2 separate regions of the Homo sapiens genome follow, and region 1 is linked to region 2. The links come from fine-mapping of genetic effects on gene expression. A gene starts in region 2. The other region holds a variant in brackets. All regions are shown on one strand. Distances are from middle to middle.

What was found. PIP is the estimated chance that this variant, and not a neighbour inherited with it, causes the effect. A credible set is the group of variants that fine-mapping cannot tell apart.
Region 1: its variant is the best candidate, but not a certain one, in a credible set for the expression of SLC33A1 in whole blood (INTERVAL, PIP 0.62).

The regions. Positions count from the first base shown.
Region 1 is chr3:155,822,018-155,831,644 of GRCh38, forward strand. It overlaps SLC33A1 (solute carrier family 33 member 1), which reads right to left. Exons shown (of 6, transcript NM_004733.4): 5 at 7,671-7,886; 6 at 1-6,360. The coding sequence ends at 6,193. Among named protein-coding and RNA genes, the nearest start is that of C3orf33, 21 kb to the left of the region's middle. The variant GTTTT/G (reference allele first, on the strand shown) is at 4,516.
Region 2 is chr3:155,849,174-155,858,800 of GRCh38, forward strand. It overlaps SLC33A1 (solute carrier family 33 member 1), which reads right to left and starts at 5,254. Exons shown (of 6, transcript NM_004733.4): 1 at 4,050-5,254. The coding sequence starts at 4,824. LOC105374174 (a long non-coding RNA gene) reads left to right here and starts at 5,580. Exons shown (of 3, transcript XR_924607.4): 1 at 5,580-5,905; 2 at 9,079-9,159. RefSeq lists enhancers at 4,842-4,911, 5,282-5,841, 8,805-8,904.

The DNA.
Region 1 (9,627 bases), 27 kb before region 2:
CTGCCTAAGCCTCCCAAACTAATGGGACTACAGGTGTAAGCCAACACACCTGGTTCAAATATGCCACTTTCTTAAATATCAAATTTTTTTCCAATCTTATATTTCTCTAATTTTATAGGGGCAGGTGATAAAAAAATTTCAATTTCACTAACTCTGACTACAAAATTAAACTTTTCCAACATTTAAGATCATTTCAAGGAAAATAAGAATAGGCTTTAATATTTACATTAGTGATTGATTAATTGTAGCTGACTGGGGTATTCAATTTTAGAAATTTAAGATAATTCCCGCCAGGTGCAGTGGCTCACACCTGCAATCCCAGCACTTTGGGAGGCCGAGGCAGGCAGATCACGAGGTCAGGAGTTTGAGACCAGCCTGACCAACATGGTGAAACCCCGTCTATACTATACAAAAAAATTAGCCAGGTGTGGTGGAAGGCACCTGTAATCCCAGCTAATGGAGAGGCTGAGGAAGGAGAATCACTTGAACCCAGCAGGCAGAGGGTGCAGGGAGTCATGCCACTGCACTCCAGCCTGGGCGACAGAGCAAGACTCCATCTCAAAAAAAAAAAAAAAAAGAAATTTAAGATAACTCCCTAAGGATTGTACCTGTACCTTGTGCATTTCAGTCATGCCATTTAATCATTATTCTTCACATAAAATTGTTATAAAGTTATATTGTCTATATTGACAATAAAAAACTATTAAACTGTAGCAACCTTTTTCTAAATGAGTCAAGACTTCTTATGAGCTATGCAAATTAATATTGCTGATATTTAAATATGATCTCTTTCATTACACATTTGGGCAAAATTTTTTTAGAGTAAAGGTGATTAGTCATAGAACTTTCTTTCTTTTTCTTTCCTTTTTAATTAAAAATAGAGATGCAGTCTCCCTGGTCTCGATCTCCTGAGCTCAAGCAATACTCCTACCTTGGCATCCCAAAGTGTTGGGATTAAAGGTATGAGCCACTACACCCAGCCCATAGACTTTTCATTTACTATATAAAGTCTTTTTCTCCTACAAAATATCCATTCTCCTTCCCCAAAATAAACAAGGCTCCTTAAAGGCAATCTTTATAATCCATAGTCAAATAAAAGTTTTTATTCACTTAAGCAGGAGGGAATGAGTTCAGCACATTAATTAGTCTGCCCTGCTATAAGACCTGCCTCTTCCAAAACAGAATTCCAATAAGGAAAATAAGCTATCCATGCTGATTCTACCTTGCTAGCAAATTGGGGAAGTAACATGAAGACTCTAATAGTGGTTTGACTGGTAGAAAATGAAAGAGCTCTCAGTCCCAAACCAAATGGTGATTACATAAAAAATTTGGCATTGTCAAATCAGGCAGATACAATCTAAAGTAAAAAGAGCCAGCAGCGGTGGCTCACGCCTGTAATCCCAGCACTTTAGGAGGCCAAGGCGGGAAGATCACCTAAGGTCAGGAGTTTGAGATCAGCCTGGCCAACATGGCAAAACCCCATCTCGACCAAAAATACAAAAATAAGCTGGGCGTAGTAGTGCACATCTGTAGTCCCAGCTACTTGGAAGGCTGAGGCAGGAGAATCGCTTGAACCCGGGAGGCGGAGGTTGCAGTGAGCAGCTTGGGCAACAGAGCCAGACTCCATCTCAAAAAAATAATAAAATAAAATAAAGTAAAAAGAACATGGTCTGCAGTAGGTGTTTTTGTTTTGTTTTTGTTTGTTTGTTTTTGAAACGGAGTCTCGCTCTGTCGCCCAGGCTGAAGTGTAGTGGCGCAATCTCAACTCACTGCAAGCTCCGCCTCCCGGGCTCAAGCAATTCTCCTGCCTCAGCCTCCCTAGTAGCTGGGATTACAGTCGTGTGCCACCCTATGCCTGGCTAATTTTTGTATTTTTAGTAGAGACGGCGTTTCACCATGTTGGCCAGGCTGGTCTCAAACTCCTGACCTCAAGTGATCCACCCACCTCGGCCTCCCAAAGGGTTGGGATTACAGGCGTGAGCCACCATGCCCAGCCTGCAATAGGTATTCAAAATCCTCCCTAAGAGAAAATAATTGTGCCTCGCTATCTACCAAAGACATTGGTTAAAAAAAAGTCTCAGCAGTTACAATGTACAGTATCACCTTCCCTTCTGTAACCAAAATACTTATTAAATATATGAATGCTAGTTATCAGATTATTTTAAAAGTTTATTTTCTTTCTCTAATAATAAGGTAAAATACATTTTGGAAATCTGCATGGAATGTTCCCAACAAGTTATTTCATTTTAGCAGGGTCTATGACATACAGCTTTAGTCATTCTTTCAATTACTTGGAACCACAGAATTCTCCAAAATACAAAAATTAAATTTTCAGCTTTTATATCAAATAATGGTCTCAACCATTTAATACAAAGCAACATACTTTCTCAGGTTTCTGTTAATAAGGCAAAATAAAAGTCACTCAGAAAAAAAAGGTTAAATCATGAAGATTTCTCTTTTGTAGGATATAATTCACCCCTGTGGTTTCTCTTCTACCATTAATGTCTTATCTACTCTAATTCCTTCAAAGTTTCAAGTTCAATACAGTATAACATATGCAGAGATTTTATAGTTTTTATCATAGATTTTTTTTTTCAACATTGTTTTCAGGATGTTTTAAACACTTTCACAACTATTACCTCAGATTTGTGATTATGGCTTATAGTACGGTCTACTTTCAAAACCATGATTTTTGGATCATGGCCCATCCAAGATTTTACTCTGTTCAGAAAAAGAAAAAAAATTACATATCCAGAGTTTCACAAGCAATTCAGGGGTTTTTCCCACAGACATCAAAAACCTTGCAATAAAGGGGTGAAATCCAAAAATTACTTTCGATTTCAAAGGTTTAATATTTTTAAAAAATTGAGAAATCTATTTAAGGTGTTGAATAAACTTTTTATGACTTATCAGGCAAAATTAAAATATTTATCATGGGCAGGGCACGGTGGCTTACACCTGTAATCCCAGCATTTTGAGAGGTCAAGGCTGGACGACTGCTTGAAGCTATGAGATTGGGACTAGCCTGGAAAATATAGCGGACCCCACCTCTATAAAAAATTATTATTTTTTATTAGCTGGGCATAGTGCTGTGTGCCTGTAGTCCTAGCTACCAGAGAGGCTGAGGTGGAAAGATCCTTTTTTGTTGTTGAGACAGGGTCTCACTCTGTCACCCAGACAGGAATGTAGTACCACAATCACTGCTTACTGAAGCCTTGACCTCCTGGGTTCAAGTAACCCTCCCGCCTAAGCTTCCCAAGTAGCTGGGACTACTGGTGTGTACCACCATGCCTGGATAATTAAAAAAAAAAAAGAAGTCATAAAGACAGGTTCTTATTATATTGACCAGGTTGGTCTTGAACTCTTGACCTCAAGTGATCCTCCTGCCTTGGCCTCCTAAAGTGTTGTGATTACAGGTGTGAGCCACAGCATCCAGCCTAAGGAAGATCCCTTGAGCCTAGGAATTTGAGGCTGCAGTGAGCTATGATTGCATCACTGTACTCCAGCTTGGGCAAAAGTGAGACCATGTCTCTAAAAAATAATAATAAAATAAAATAAAGTATTTACAATGGAAGGAATCTGTGGTGTTACTTTTAGGTAATCTCAGAAGAACTTTTCAAACTCAGATGTATATATGCGGCAACCAATGTGCATATGGAGATACTGACATAGAGAGAAAAATGTTCAATCTAATATTAGCCAGTAAACATATGATGCATTAACTGGAGGAGTTAAAAGTCCATACTTGAAGGTACTGTTTAATTTATCAGGATCAATCAATCAAGAAAAACACCCACAACATAAAAACAGGGTGGTATATTTTAGTACTACTGATTTATAATAAACAGATCCTCAGATTTAGGCAGATCATTTTTAAATGCCATTAGTGATCAATGTATGCAACACAGTTGCACATAGCTATTAACAAGTTATTTTGACATGCATTACATACATGTATTCAAATTAACTATAATTTTTTGTGCTTATTTCTAGAGCAAATTAATTAAATGGCTTTCACCTTAAAGGCTTAAAATGTTTTAAAACTTCAAGTCATTAAAGATGTACTGACATTAAAACTATGTTTGAAGGCTGGGCGCAGTGGCTCATGCCTGTAATCCCAGCACTTTGGGAGGCCGAGGCGGGTGGATCACTTGAGGTCAGGAGTTCAAGACCAGCCTGGCCAACATGGTGAAACCCCATCTCTACTAAAAATACAAAAATTAGCCGGGTGTGGTGGTGTGCGCCTGTAGTCCCAGCTACTCAGAGGACTGGGGCAGGAGAATCACTTGAACCCAGGAGGCAGAGGTTGCAGTGAGCCGAGATTGCACCACTGTACTCCAGCCTGGGTGACAAAGTGAGACTCTGTCTCAATTAAAAAAAAAAAAAACTATGTTTGAAAGTATATATAATTTGTAATAATATACACGGGAAGAAATAAAAGGTTATTATGGCAATCTGAGTTTCTTAATCCAAAAATTAAAAATCAAAACACATTTCATATGTAAGAGTTAAGTG[GTTTT/G]TTTTCTTTATTCAAGTAATCATTTAGACTCTAATACATGATAATGGACAACCATGTGACAAAGTACTGTAGTGTATGGTTTGGTGTAGCCTCCTTGCCTCTAGGATGGGATTTTTTCCAGGTGATTCTTCAGGATCTGACATCGATGCCCAACACAGGCTTTCCAATGGCAATGCATGAGTTCTAGAGGTCACTGCCCCATCTTTCTTCAGGTGCTGTGTGCCATTTTCTCCCACCCATTTTATCCTCCATTACTTATAAAAACCCCACTCTAAAATTCAACCTATGTTATAAAATTAACAAAATCAGGAGTTAGTACACATTTTTCCACAATGATAAAATTAAGACTCATAATGTACTATCTTGTTTCGTCTAACTTTTGGAGGATTTATATAATCTCTAAAGAGTCAGAGTAATACATAACACAAAACATGCAAAGAACCTTATCACTGGGTGTATGTAATACGCTGGGAATTGCTAAAGTACTCAAAAGCTTAATTTTCTTGGAATAGCAACTGTCCACTGAAAACTATAGTATTCAAACAAAAGGTTATGTGTTAATACATGAAAATACAGTACCTGATTTGGCATAAATTGTGAGATCTTTTTCACTAGTAAAGTGCTTAATTAAGAAACATTTTTCCACTATTAGATTTAATTTGTCAAAGGCACAAAATATCTTTGTCTCTCTCTTTAAAGTATTAGTTTTTTAAATTATGGTACTGCCCATTTAAATTTTACTTAATCAGAAAGCTTTACTGTTTTTTTCTCTCAGCAATTAAAAAAAAACTACTTGAAGAAAAACATTTAATTTTTATTTTCAAAATGTTGCCATAAACATACATACAACACTGAATTTGATCCCCTCCATTGGCTGTCTGTGTGCCAGGAAGCACTTGTGACAGAAAACATATATAAGCTTAGGGTAAAAGTTTATAAGGAATCAAAATATCTTCCAAAAAGAGGGGGTAGGGGCAAGAGGAATCAATAAGTTTAAAAATCATAACTTTCATTTTATAAAAAATAGTTTGAATAATTTTCTTATAAATCTTTAATGCTTACAAAAGCAGGAAATACATTTAAAATAGTCTTTTTAACACAGATTCATTTGTACAATGTGGTCATAAGAAAAATAACTAAAATGACATTTCAGTAGTCTATATTCTTTTCTCAGCAAATTCCACATAAAATTTAACTAATTTACAATTCAAAATAAGATTTTAACTGCCAACAATGTCAGACTAGTTGTGGTTAGTACCTGAATATCAAGCTCTTCTCCATTTTATATATTGTACCAAAATTTTAAATACAGCTCAGCAGTGATAGGTACTAATAACAATACCTGACTACATGGTTACCACCCGTGACTACTGCATTGCAGCTTAAAACATGCTTTGGTCAGTAAATTTAAAAGATATACATCAAATAACAAGGCCAGAAAAGTTGTTTTAGAATTTCCTGACCTTAAGTAAACTTTAAATACATTGACAAGGCAAAAAAAAAATATGATCAAATATACAGAAAGGTTTCTATTTTTTCAACCATTTGGCATTTTATATTATTAATTTCGCTGTTTAAAATAATATTTTATACTCCTGTGCACTGATTATCATTGCTCTCCGAATTAAAACTAAACTACAATTACCTTGCTAGAATGTCCAGTAGCATATATATTAATTGTTCCTTTTGCATTTCCACGAAGATGATCCTTCATCCTGTAACTTTTTAAATTTTGGACCAAGAAAGAACCACCAACCAAATCCAATGAAAACACAAATAATGGACTCCACATAATAACCATCCAGGGCTGTAACACATGAGCCACCCAGTTTTTTGCAAAGCTGTAAAAATAAAACTATAATAAATACTCCACAATTTCAAAATGAAAGTATTTAGCAATTAACATGCTTCTACTTTATAAAGAATAAAAATATATTTTTCTTAAAACATTTCAGTATTTCACTGAATTCCAATGACAAAATATGTTAATGTATCTTAATCTCTCTAATGCTACTAACAGGATTAAAAACAATTTTCAGTTCTTGCTGTAAACAATACTCATTTTCTTTTTTGAGACACGGTCTCACTTGTGGCCCCGGCTGAAATGCAGTGGTGTGATAATGGCTCACTGCGGTCTCTGGCTCCTGGGCTCAAGCAATCCTCCCACCTCAGCCTTGTGAGTAGATAAGACCACAGGCGTGCACCACCATGCCCCATTAATTTCTACATTTTTTGTAGAGATGGTGCTTCACCATGTGGCCCAGGGTGGTCTTGAACTCCTGGGCTCAAGCAATCTGCCTGCTTCAGCCTCTCAAAATGCTGGAATTACGGGTGTGAGCCACCATACCCAGCCGAATATGTTTTTTTTTTTTTTTTTTTTTTAAGAGACGGAGTCTTGTTCTGTCGCCCAGGCTGGAGTACAGGGGCGCGATCTCAGCTCACTGCAACCTCCGCCTCCCAGTTCTAGCAATTCTCCTGTCTCAGCCTCCTGAGTAGTTGGGACTACAGGCACACACCACCCCGCCCGGCTAATTTTTTGTATTTTAGTAGAGATGGGGTTTCACCGTGTTGCCCAGGCTGGTGTCAAACTCCTGAGCTCAGGCAATCCACCCGCCTTAGCCTCCCAAAGTGCTAAGAATACAGGCGTGAGCCACTGCACCTGGCCCGATTATCTATTTTCACGATGCAGCTTTCACATTCGGAAATGTGAAGAAATTTCCAGTCCATCTACTCTAGAAGTAGACAAATACCACTTTGAAAGAATTTATCAACAAACCACTCACTATACAGGTTTAGTTATCACTGTTATAGGAATAGCCAATGGACATTCCCTTTTTCTATCACTACAAAACTTAAGCTATTAATTATGCATTTATATAGTGCCTGCTGTGTAGGACAGTGATCGTCAAGGTGGGGGAAAGAGAGATCGCCTCTCCTTTACTGAGAAACGCCTTTAAGGGAACTAGTCTTGCTGATTTGAATGATTATAACCCTCAGCCTTGATGTGAAAGAAAATATATATGTAGATTTCTAAACCAGAACCTATGGACAGATATGATTTTTAAAAAAGATATAGTACTTCTAGAGACAAAACAAAGATATTAATATCTTAGTATTAGCTTAATGTTATCTAAAATTAAAACATACTTACCTCAACAGCATCAGGTGTTCGACAATTCTGGTTTGATGCTCCTACACACTCTTTTACTGTGAGGGGATCTACAAGCCAAAGAGCTACTGTAGAAGGCCAGTTTCCTCCCAGATTGGACACGGTATTTAAAAGGGTCATGTATGTTCCTCCAATAAGTGGATCACTAACCTTTGCATTGAAAGCCATTATAGAAACATACATGCTGTACACTGTAACCTACGGAAAAATGTAAAACATCTTTAGTATGATTATAAAGCTTATAAAGCTACAGTCTAAATTAAGAACATCAAAGTCATAAACCTGAAATTAATTTTCATGGTATTTATTGAACTCAATTCAACAAATACTTATCAAGCACCTACTATAGGCCAGGCTTTAAGATCACAGCAATACAGGCCGGGCGCGGTGGCTCATGCCTGTAATTCCAGCACTTTGGGAGGCCAAGGCGGGCGGATCACAAGGTCAGGAGATCGAGACCATCCTGGCTAACACGGTGAAACCCTGTCTCTACTGAAAAATACAAAAAAAAAAAAAAAATAGCCGGATGTGGTGGCAGGCGCCTGTAGTCCCAGCTACTTGGGAGGCTGAGGCAGGAGAATGGCGTGAACCCGGGAGGCGGAGCTTGCAGTGAGCTGAGATCGCACCACTGCACTCCAGCCTGGGCGACAGAGGGAGACTCAGTCTCAAAAAAAATAAATAAATAAAAATAAATAAATAAAAAAAAAGATCCCAGCAATACAAAGATGTGACCTTGGTCCTTCTGTGACATTGAAGAATTTATTCTAGGCTGGAAAATGGGGAATAAATAATTATAAATACAGGAAGTACTGTAAATAGAAGTGCACACATTGTGTTACTGGGGCATAAAGATAAATGAGAGATTAATTCTACCACAAGTAGTCAAGAAAGACTCCACGGAGAAAATGTTAGATGAGGTGGCACTAAAGGATACATAATGCATACAGCAAAATGCAAAACCTCATATTTGTACTGTACCTAAATATGTATCATATATTGCATGTGTATATATACATATTTATATGTATGCATTTATTACATATATAAATACTCAAATATTTAAAGAAATAGGAATATATATATTTTTCTCCTACATATACACAAGAAAAGTATTTCAAAATTTATGTGACAAACTGGAGAAAAACATCCTTAAGAGGCAAAAAGTACTTAAAAGGCAAGAATTAACCTTTAATTTAGAAAGATGGAAACAAACTGTGTTTCAATAATGGTATTCCTTTGAATAGTGTTTTTGGGGGTGTTCACAGAAAAAGGAGTTCCAAAGTCAAATAAGACTGAAAGACACTAACTTACACAAAATTGAAAAGGTTCCTTTCATTGTATGCCTTTTGAAATATTTACAACATACACTCCTTGAGGGCAGGGATTTGGGCATGATTTATTAAGTTATATTTCAGTACTCAGAATGGTTTCTGGCAGGGAATAGGTGTTCACTTAATATTTGTTGAAGAAGCTGGGTGCGGTGGCTCACACCTATAATCCCAGCACTTTGGAAGGCCGAGGTGGGCGGATCACCTGAGGTCAGGAGTTCAAGACCAGCCTGGCCAATGTGGTAAAACCCGTCTCTACTAAAAATACAAAAATCAGCTGGGTGAGGTGGTGCTCATCTGTAATCCCAGCTACTTGGGAGGCAGAAGCAGGAGAATCACTTGAACCCGGGAGGTGGAGGTATCACAGTGAGCCGAGATTGTGCCACTGCACTCCAGCCTGGGCAACAGAGTGAGACTCTGTCTCAAAAAAAAAAAAAAAAAAAAAAAAAAAAAAAAAATTTGTTGAAGGAATCATTAAGGCACTACTTACAGAAGGCTTATGTCATACATCATTTCTCGAATTTATTTGGTCTTGTACCTTTTTTCCCCCATAAAGCATCTGGTTATCTGAGTTTCAGTGATTACACTTCAGGAAATTCTCAAATGAAATC
Region 2 (9,627 bases):
CAAAGTGCTAGGATTACAGGTGTGAGCCGCTGCACCTGGCCAGAACATATTTTAGAATTAAAAAAAGAAAACAATTACGCTTCCTTTTAATACTCAGATTTTCTAAACATTGCCTCAGTGTTTAGCTCCTCTTTAATCACCTAAGCAATTATATTTCCATCATATAATTCTTCCTGTGCTATATAACTTTTTCAAAACCACTGGTTTTTCTTATCCTATTAATAAGTTCCAGAAAGAACAATGTTATAAATGTGGTATGTTCAGTCATAAAAAGGAGAATGAAACTATAGGAATTCTAACTTTCAACTAAAATGTTTGAACCAGAAACAGCAGTCCACTACAGATATAAACAGTTGAATTAAAAAGTAAGCTAGTTATAGAATCTACTGCAGAACAAAGTTCAAATTCCACAGGAAAAAAAAAAAAAGGGGCAATTCAAAATAACAAGTGACAGCCAGGCACAGTGGCTCACACTTGTAATCCCAGCACTTTGGGAAGCCGAGGTGAGCAGATCACTTGAGGTCAGGAGTTCAAGACCAGCCTGGCCAACATGGCGAAACCCCATCTCTACCAAAAATACAAAAATTAGCCAGGCATGGTGGCACACGCTTATAATCCCAGCTACTAGGGAGGCTGAGGCAGCAGAATAGCTTGAGCCCTGGAGGGGGAAGTTGCAGTGAGCTGAGATCATACCACTGCACTCTACCCTGGGCGACAGAGCGAGACTCCATCTCAGAATAATAATAATAATAATAATAATAATAATAATAATAATAATAATAACAATTCACTGCCTAGAAATACTCTGTGAATGCATACTGTCTGTTATCAGTTTGTTGCTTTTTTCTTTTTTGAGATGGAGTCTTTCTCTGTCGCCCAGGCTGGAGTGCAGTGGCGCGATCTCAGCTCACTGCAACCTCCGCCTCCCAGGTTGAAGCGATTCCCCTGCCTCAGCCTCCTGAGTAGCTGAGACTACAGGTGCATGCCATCACACCGGGCTAATTTTTGTATTTTTAGAAGAGACAAGGTTTCACCATGTTGGCCAGGATGGTCTTGATCTCCTGACCTTGTGATCCTCCTGCCTTGGCCTCCCAAAGTGTTGGGATTACAGGCGTGAGCCAACGCGCCCAGCCAGTTTGTTGCTTTTTATGTGTCTGCTTTTCATTTTGTCCTGAGACTGCTGTTTATATCACCACAGAGGATTAAGGAGATGATGTTACTTAAGATGAGAAAGCCTCAGTGAAATCAAGGTTTAAGAGGCCATGGAAACTAAATTGCTAATTAGCTAAATTGGAACTTTCTCTTAATGTAAGAGTGATTGGTAAAACATCATTCCAGAGAATAATGTTATGAGTTCAAGAGTTATTATATTTATACTCCCTTAGCCACAACTGTTCCCTAATGGATCAAAATTATGCCACTGGATTTTAATTTACACTGACTTATTCTTTTTTTTTTTTTGAGATGGAGCCTTGCTCTGCCGCCTAGACTGGAATGCAATGGTGCGATCTCGGTTCACTGCAACCTCTGCTTCCTGGGTTCAAGCGATTCTCCCCACCCAGCCTCCTGAGTAGCTGGGATTACAAGTGAATGCCACCACTTCCACCTAATTTTTGTATTTTTAATAGAGAAGGGGTTTTGCCATGTTGGCCAGGTTGGTCTCAAACTCCTGATCTCAGGTGATCTGTCCACCTCAGCCTCCCAAAGTGCTGGGATTACAGGCGTGAGCCACTGCACCAGCCTTGACTTCTTTATTTTAATTTTATTTTTAATTAATTAATTTATTTTGGCTGGGCGCAGTGGCTTACGCCTGTAATCCCAACACTTTGGGAGGCCGAGGTGGGCGGATCACAAGATCAGGAGATCGAGACCATCCTGGCCAACACAGTGAAACCTTGTCTGTACTAAAAATACAAAAATTAGCTGGGTGTGGTGGCACATGCCTGTAATCCCACTACTCAGGAGGCTGAGGCAGGAGAATGGCTTGAACTAGAGAAGTGGAAATCGCAGTGAGCTGAGGTCCTGCCACTGCACTCCAGTCTAGTGTCAGAGGGAGACTCCATATAAAAAATACATATATATAATTTTAAGACAGGGTTGCACTCTGTTGACCAGGCTGGGGTGCAATGATTGGATCATAGCTCACTGAAGCCACAATCTCCCGGGCTGAAGCAATCCTCCTGCCTCAGCCTCCTGAGTAGCTAGGGTTACAGGCCTTCGCAAAACACCCAGCTATTTTTTTTTTTTTTTTAATTTTTAGTAGAGATGAGGTCTTGCTGTATTGCCCAAGCTGGCTCTACCTCCTCAGCTCAAGCAGTCCTCCCACCTCAGACTCCCAAAGTGCTGGGATAACAGGTGTGAGCCACTGTGCCCAGTCGTGACTTATTTTTTATTTTATTTATTTATTTATTTTTGAGACAGAGTCTCAAAAATGGGGTTTCGCCATGCTGGCCAGGCTGGTCTCAAACTCCTGACCTCAAGTGATCCTCCCACCTCAGCCTCCCAAAGTGCTGGGATTACAGGTGTGAGCCACTGTGCCCGGCCAGCAGTGAATTATTCATAAAGCAGGAGTGGAACCCCAGAACACTGAGACAAATCTACCTGGGTGCAAAGCAATTATCTCTCAACCAAACAACTGAGGAAAAAGTACTATCACCATCATTTCACCAGTAATAGTGGCTCACTCATTAGCAGTTTGAGGAGGTGTACATAAGGTTAGATGTCTGTGAGAATAAGATTGCAGGAAAATAGTGTAGTTGTGACACCTCCTACCACCACCACATACCTGGACATTTACTCTACTGTGAATTTCCAAGGTAGCACAGAAGCTGAGAAGTTCAGTTGCTTAAATTTCAAAACAGAATCCCCTAAATTCATCATCACTGACAGAATGAAGAATTTCACTATATTCCTGACATTGTTATTCCTGATATTGGTCATTTTACTTGTTTTCTAGTTGTTACAAAAGTTAAAAACAAACAAACAAACAAAAAAGCTTAGGCCAGGTGGGGTGGTTCACACTTATAATTCCCAGTACTTTGGGAGGCCAAGGAGGGGGAGAATCACCTGAGGCCAGGAGTTCAAGACCAGCCTGGCCAACATAGTGAGACAGCCCCCCCGACCCCCAACTATCTCAATTAAAAAAAAGAAGAAAAAAGAAAAAAGAGAAAAACTTACATGTGTTTTACTCATGCAGAGAAACAGGGAAATTTTTTAGAACTTACCCTCCATTACTTACAGGACAAACTTTAAACTCTTTTCCCATAGTAATTAAAGAAAATCTTACTAATTTAGTCACAGCCTTTCTCAGCACGATTTCCCAAACCCAGTTCCACAATTTAGGCAATGTCCTGTACTTTTTTGTACTTTCCTGCCTCAGTGCACTTTTACTTTGTGTTGTGCATTCTGGTGTGCCATTTCCTGGCCTCGTGGAATCTTATTCAAGAACAAAGTCAAATGTTATCTGCAATGTGAAGCCTGACTCCCAAAGGCAGTTACTAACTGGCAACTCTGAACTCTCCTAAAATGTTCATCTTCCTTATTTCTTGAGTGCAGAACTCTGCCTTATTCATTAGAGGCCTTAGAATCCCGTCCCTTAGCTGGTTCAATAATGTTTGAACGAATAAACCCTGTTCCATTCACTAGAAGGCTGGATTCTGGGTACAACGGTAGGGGTAGAAATGGATTAGAAAGTATAGAGCTAGAAACCTAAAACCAACAAGACAAAAGGAAAAATGTGAACCATATGAGCCACACTTTTTAAAAGTGTGCATTTGTGTATTAAGCAAGTGGCATGAATCCCTGGACTCGGTTGTGTTATTTGATGGGTTGCCTCTCCCTGTTAACCGCATAGTGATCATTTGATTGCTCTAATATCATTCATTTTGGCTTTAATATTTCAAAGAAGCTCATTTGGACGAAACAGAAAACTTACCTTGAGTTATCTCCCATACAATGATTTCCAGTAAATTAATGAGCTTCCCTCCAACGTCACACACTCTTTCAAAAGGATAAATAAACCTAACACCATAATAGCTTAAATACACTACCTGAAAGAGTAACGATTCCTCTGGGTTGAGGCTGAAACCGCAAATATTTGTTACAAAAGTCGGCAGATTCAAGGGCCAAAAACAAAACATTGCCCAAAAAGTAACCCGCTGTTTGGCCCACCGAATTGCAAGTAGAAGCATAACCCACATTTTCCCTGGATAACATAGTTAACGCCCAACCATCGACGGCAATGTCCTGAGTGGCGGCCAAGAATTCAAACAAAAAGAACGCCACAGTGAGAGCAATCACGTCGGGTGTTCTGTCATCGGTATTCCCAAGCAAACGGTCCACCTGAGTGGATAAATAGATCATGAAGAGTCCTAGTATATACTGTGTCGGGACAAGCCAAGATTTGCGACGACCGAAGTTCTTAACGTAGACCGCATCAACCAACGGGGCCCAGAGTAATTTGAGACTGAAGGGCCAAAAGACAAAACTGAAGAAAGCTTGGTCTGTATAGCTAACATTTTTGCTTTGCAAAATGAGTGGGATGCTTCCCGCCAAGCCCAGGGGAATACCCTGAAGCACGTAAAGAAAGAGTAGTAGCAAAATGCTGCTTAGTTCGGCCCGGAAGCTCTGTGGGGCTTTTAAGAAGTCGCCAGTGCCGGTATCCCCCAGAAGAGCTTCTCTGTCCCCTTCCCGGCCCGCTGAGTCCAAATGACTGTCATCCCAACCGCCTGGCGGCAGGGGACCGCTCTTCATATCCAGAGAGTGACTGAAATTCCCTGGCCGCCGTTGCCGGCTGCTGTCCTTGTGGGAGATGGTGGGTGACATATCAGAGACGATGCAGAGCCCCGTCTGTGGGGGGCCGAGGCTGAGCGTTTTGGATCCGTCCAGTCCCAGGTCCAAGGCTGTCGCGCTGGACCAGGGTTTCGGTGGTTCACGGGATGGTGGCAGGGCTCAGAGCGATAAGGGCACTTCTTACTGCAGCCCGGAGTGCTGAAGCCGGGAGCCAGTCCTCTGGCTAGAGGCCCAGAGGATGCCTGGATAGGTGCCCCCTGGAACGGCGTCAAAGAGCCTGAAGGAGACCCCCGGGCAGCAGCGCCGGGCTCGAGGCTGGAGGTGTGTGCCGTGGTGCCAGGATGGAAACCAGCTCCTACCTGCGGCGGGATCGAACGGCTGGTCTCCCGACCCAACACCTCCAGCTCTCGCTGCTATCAATGCGGCAGAGAGCACTTTCTCTACAGGACTCCAGAAAAAGCATATAACTTCCTGCCTCGCGCTTCAGGAAGTGGTCCCAGTCTCTAACAGGTCCCTTCCCAGCCTCCAGAGCAAGCCAATCAGGGACACGCTCTCGTGGCCCAGTTCGGAAACAATGCTTGGTGGGAACCTGCAATCTTGGCTGCCGGAACCTTCGGGGAGGATTAACGCCGGCGCACCGTGCGGCCGGGGCGGGGCGCCGCCCAAACTCAGGCCCTGTGACAGCGACTGTGGCGGTCTGGAAAGCGTGGGCCTCGGTCATTGGGCACGAGCGGTCACGTGACAGCGGGTTCCTCCAGGCCAGCGCTGGTGGTTGAGTGATGTAATCACGTGGGGTCTGAAGTCTTCGTGGGTGTAGGTTTCTTCGTTATGCTGACGACAGGCAGTGCCCGAACTCTAGGCTGGGAGTTGTGCCATGCTGCTGCTTTCGTGGGCTGACCAGAAAAGGGTAGAAGGATTGACGTTTACGAAGTTTTTGAATCAGGAGGCAAGGTCGCCTTGTGCCCCCAAAAGGATAGAAAAAGGCCTGGCAAACTGGAGAATCGCGTCCTTACGGTGCCTACATATTTATAGTACGAATTAAACTGCTCAAGGGGTGCTAGGTTTGTCTGCAGTCCGTTTCTCCCTCATGGTGGAAGACGCGTGGGGAAACTTGGTAACCAACTCTAATTACATTGGTGATTGGAAGACTCGTTACATCCTGTTTTTATGTTGCAATAAAACGTCTTGTGGCCGGGCGCGGTGGCTCACGCCTGTAATCCCAGCACTTTGGAAGGCCGAGGCGGGCGGATCACCTGAGATTGGGAGTTCAAGATCAGCCTGACCAACAAGGAGAAACCCGTCTCTACTAAGAGACGTACAGGAATTTGAGAATCTGATTAATTTTTTTTCTGCTCTCTCACCTCTGGCAGAAAGATTATTATTTTTTTTTCTTTTGAGAGGAATCTCACACTGTCGCCTGGGCTGGTGTTCAGTAGGGCCATCTCGGCTCGCTGCAGCCTCCACCTCCCGGGTTCAAGCGATTCTCCTGCCTCAGCCTCCCGAGTAGCTGGGACTACAGGCACGCGCCACCACGCCCGGCTAATTTTTGTATTTTTAGTAGAGACGGGGTTTCACTATGTTGGCCAGGCTGGTCTCGAACTCCTGACCTCGTGATCCGCCTGCCTCGGCCTCCCAAAGTGCTGGGATTACAAACGTAATGGCAGGCTAGGCACAGTGGCTCACGCCTATAATCCCAGAACTTTGGGAGGCCGAGGCGGGTGGATCACGAGGTCAAGAGATTGAGACCATCCTGGCCAACACGGTGAAACCCCGTCTCTACTAAAAATACAAAAAATTAGCTCGGCCTGGTGGCGCGCGCCTGTAGCCCCAGCTACTTGGGAGGCTGAGACAGGAGACTCGCTTGAACCTGGGAGGCGGAGGTTGCAGTGAACCGGGATCGTGCCACTGCAATCCAACCTGGCGACAGAGTGAGACTCCGTCTGGAAAAAAAAAAAAAAGGCAACTGTAAAGTCCTCTAATCTTTGTTAAGTAGAAGAATAGATTGCAGAAAAGAACAGTGTTGGCCGGGCGCGGTGGCTCACACCTGTAATCCCAACACTTTGAGAGGCTGAGGCGGGCAGATCACTTGAGGTCAGGGGTTCAAGACAAGCCTGGCCAATATGGTGAAACCCTGTCTCTACTAAAAATACAAAAATCAGCTGGGTGTGGTGGCTCATGCCTGTAGTCCCAGATACTCGGGAGGCTGGGGCTGGAGAATCGTTTGAACCCGGGAGGCGGAGGTTGCAGTGAGCCGAGATCATGCCATTGCACTCCAGTCTGGGTGTTAAAGAAAAGAACGGTGTCATTTAAGTCCAATCAAGATTAAACCAAAACAACCATGAGTGGGATTTATATTGTGCTGGATTCAAACCCTGGCTCTAACAGTAGTTGTGCCTTGGACAGATTACTTAACCTAAGCCTCCATTTTGATGAAAATTAAAATAGAGTTCATAACATCTATTTCAGAGAGTTGTGGGAGTTAAAGGAAGCAGCCAATAAAGCCATTCACAATCAGTAGGTGTTTTTTTTTTTTCCAAAAAAAAAGGAAATACTTGATGAGTTTGTATGTCTTGTGTTTGATTTTTTCCCCTTCTTTAATTTGAAATAATTATAGATTCACAGGAAATTGCAAATATAGCAGAGTCCCATATACCCTTCACCCACCTTCCTCTGATCATTGCCTCTTACGTGATTATAGTACAATATTAAAACCAGGAAACTGACATCTGTAAAATATTGTTAACCAGACCACAGGCTTTATTCCAATTTCACCAGTTTTTACATGCACTAGCTTGTGTGTGTGTGTGTGTGTCCTGTGTTACCCTTTCATAGTGCTATCCCTTATAGTACTACATATTAATAGTTGCACCAGTCCACTGTCCTCCTCCCTGTTCTTTGGCAATCACTAATTTGTTCTCCACGGCTATACTTACGTCCTTTCAAGAATATTATAAAAGTGGAATCATATAGTATGCAACTTTGGGGATCAACTTTTTTTTTCATCCACCAAAATGTCCTTGAGATCCATTTAAGATGGTAATATATCAGTATCAATGTATGTCCGTCTTTCTTTTAAATCACAGAGTATTAGTCCATTGTATAGATACCAAATCAGTTTTGAGTTTTTTTCATTTTTTTTTTTTCTTTTTTGAGATGGAGTTTCGCTCTGTCGCCCAGGCTGGAGTGCAACAGTGTGATCTCGGCTCACTGCAACCTCCACCTCCCGGGTTCAAGTGATTCTCCTGCCTCAGCCTCCTGAGTAGCTGGGACTACAGGTGTGTGCTACCGTGTCCCGCCACATCAGTTTTTAAATAAGGAATCTTCTTGGAAATAATTGATTTCTCCCTACATATAAGAATGATTCCCCTTTAGTGGTTCAATTATCTTCCTATCAAATGTTAAATCTTTAGATCTATGCAGGCAAGAGTTACAAACAATAGGAAAAATGACTGGAGGCAAATATCAGGAAAAGTGTTTTTCATGTTACCCCAATTCAATGTGTATGCATTATTAAAGTGATAAGGTGGGCCAGGGGCAATGGCTTATGCCTGTAATCTCAACACTTTGGGAGGCCAAGGCAGGTGGATCACTTGAGGTCAGGAGTTCAAGACCAGTGTGGCCAAGATGGTAAAACCCTGTCTCTACTAAAAATACAAAAATTATCTGGGTGTGGTGGTGAATGCCTGTAATCCCACCTACTTGGGAGGCTGAGGTAGGAGAATCGCTTGAACCTGGGAGGTGGTGGTTGCAGTGAGCCAAGACTGTGCCACTGCACTCCAGTCTGGGCAACACAGTGAGAAGAGAATCCTCCAGCCCCAAGGTGAGCCACCCCTGCTAATGCTAAATAAAGAGTAGAGACAAGTATTCGTTGCTAAGCCATGCCCAAATTGCTGTTGTCTTCTTAGAAGACTTAGTGGTAGTATCTTTCCAACACAAACTAAGACATTTCTCTACAAACCTGGGAACACCACCCCCACCAGGCCCTCAGTGTCCCTCAGCAAATGTGGAACAAATGTCACTATCACTATGAAAACAAAACTGATACCGCATGGGACCTTCAGCCCATACTGTCATGAATAGCTGTTTTTGTTTTTTGTTTTTGTTTTTTTTGCATTTTCAACTCCCCTAACTCACTTCAGTTAATATCATTTCCCCTTTCTTTTGGAATACTGGTGTTCCCTGATTGATGTGTTTTGGGGAAGCTGGTGAAACTGCCAAATATAAAACCCTTCTGGTGGTCGCCATGATCCTTTCTTGCTTTTTTTTTTTTTCCTTGTCCCTTTATAGGTATCCTGTGTTTTCCAGTTGAAAGCTTGTGAAAATTCGCTTTATCCTTGAAGTTCAGAATTTTCACCAGGATGTATGAAGGTATGTATTGTATAATACATATATGTTTTTCTATTAATCTTGTTCAACATTTATTAGGTCTTTTTTAACAAAGTTTCAAATCTTTCTTGATTTTAGAGAAATTTTCCTTAATAATATCTTTGCTTTTTCATTTTTTCCTCTTCATTAATTCCCCCTAAAAGTCCTAGTAAACTTATATTTTGTTTACTGGAATTACCCCTTAAGCTTTTTCTCATAACTTTCCTTTTTCTTTTTACTCTATGTTCTTAGAAACTTCCAAACTAGGTCCTTCAAAAACAAATTGAAATTGCACAGTTAAAATTTCTGCATTTCAAAATACATAAGAGTTTTATCTCAAAAAACAAACAAACAACTATAAAAAAACTATGGCCGGGCGGTGGCTCACGCCTGTAATCCCAGCACTTTGGGAGGCCGAGGCGGGCGGATCACGAGGTCAGGAGATCGAGACCATCCCGGCTAAAACGGTGA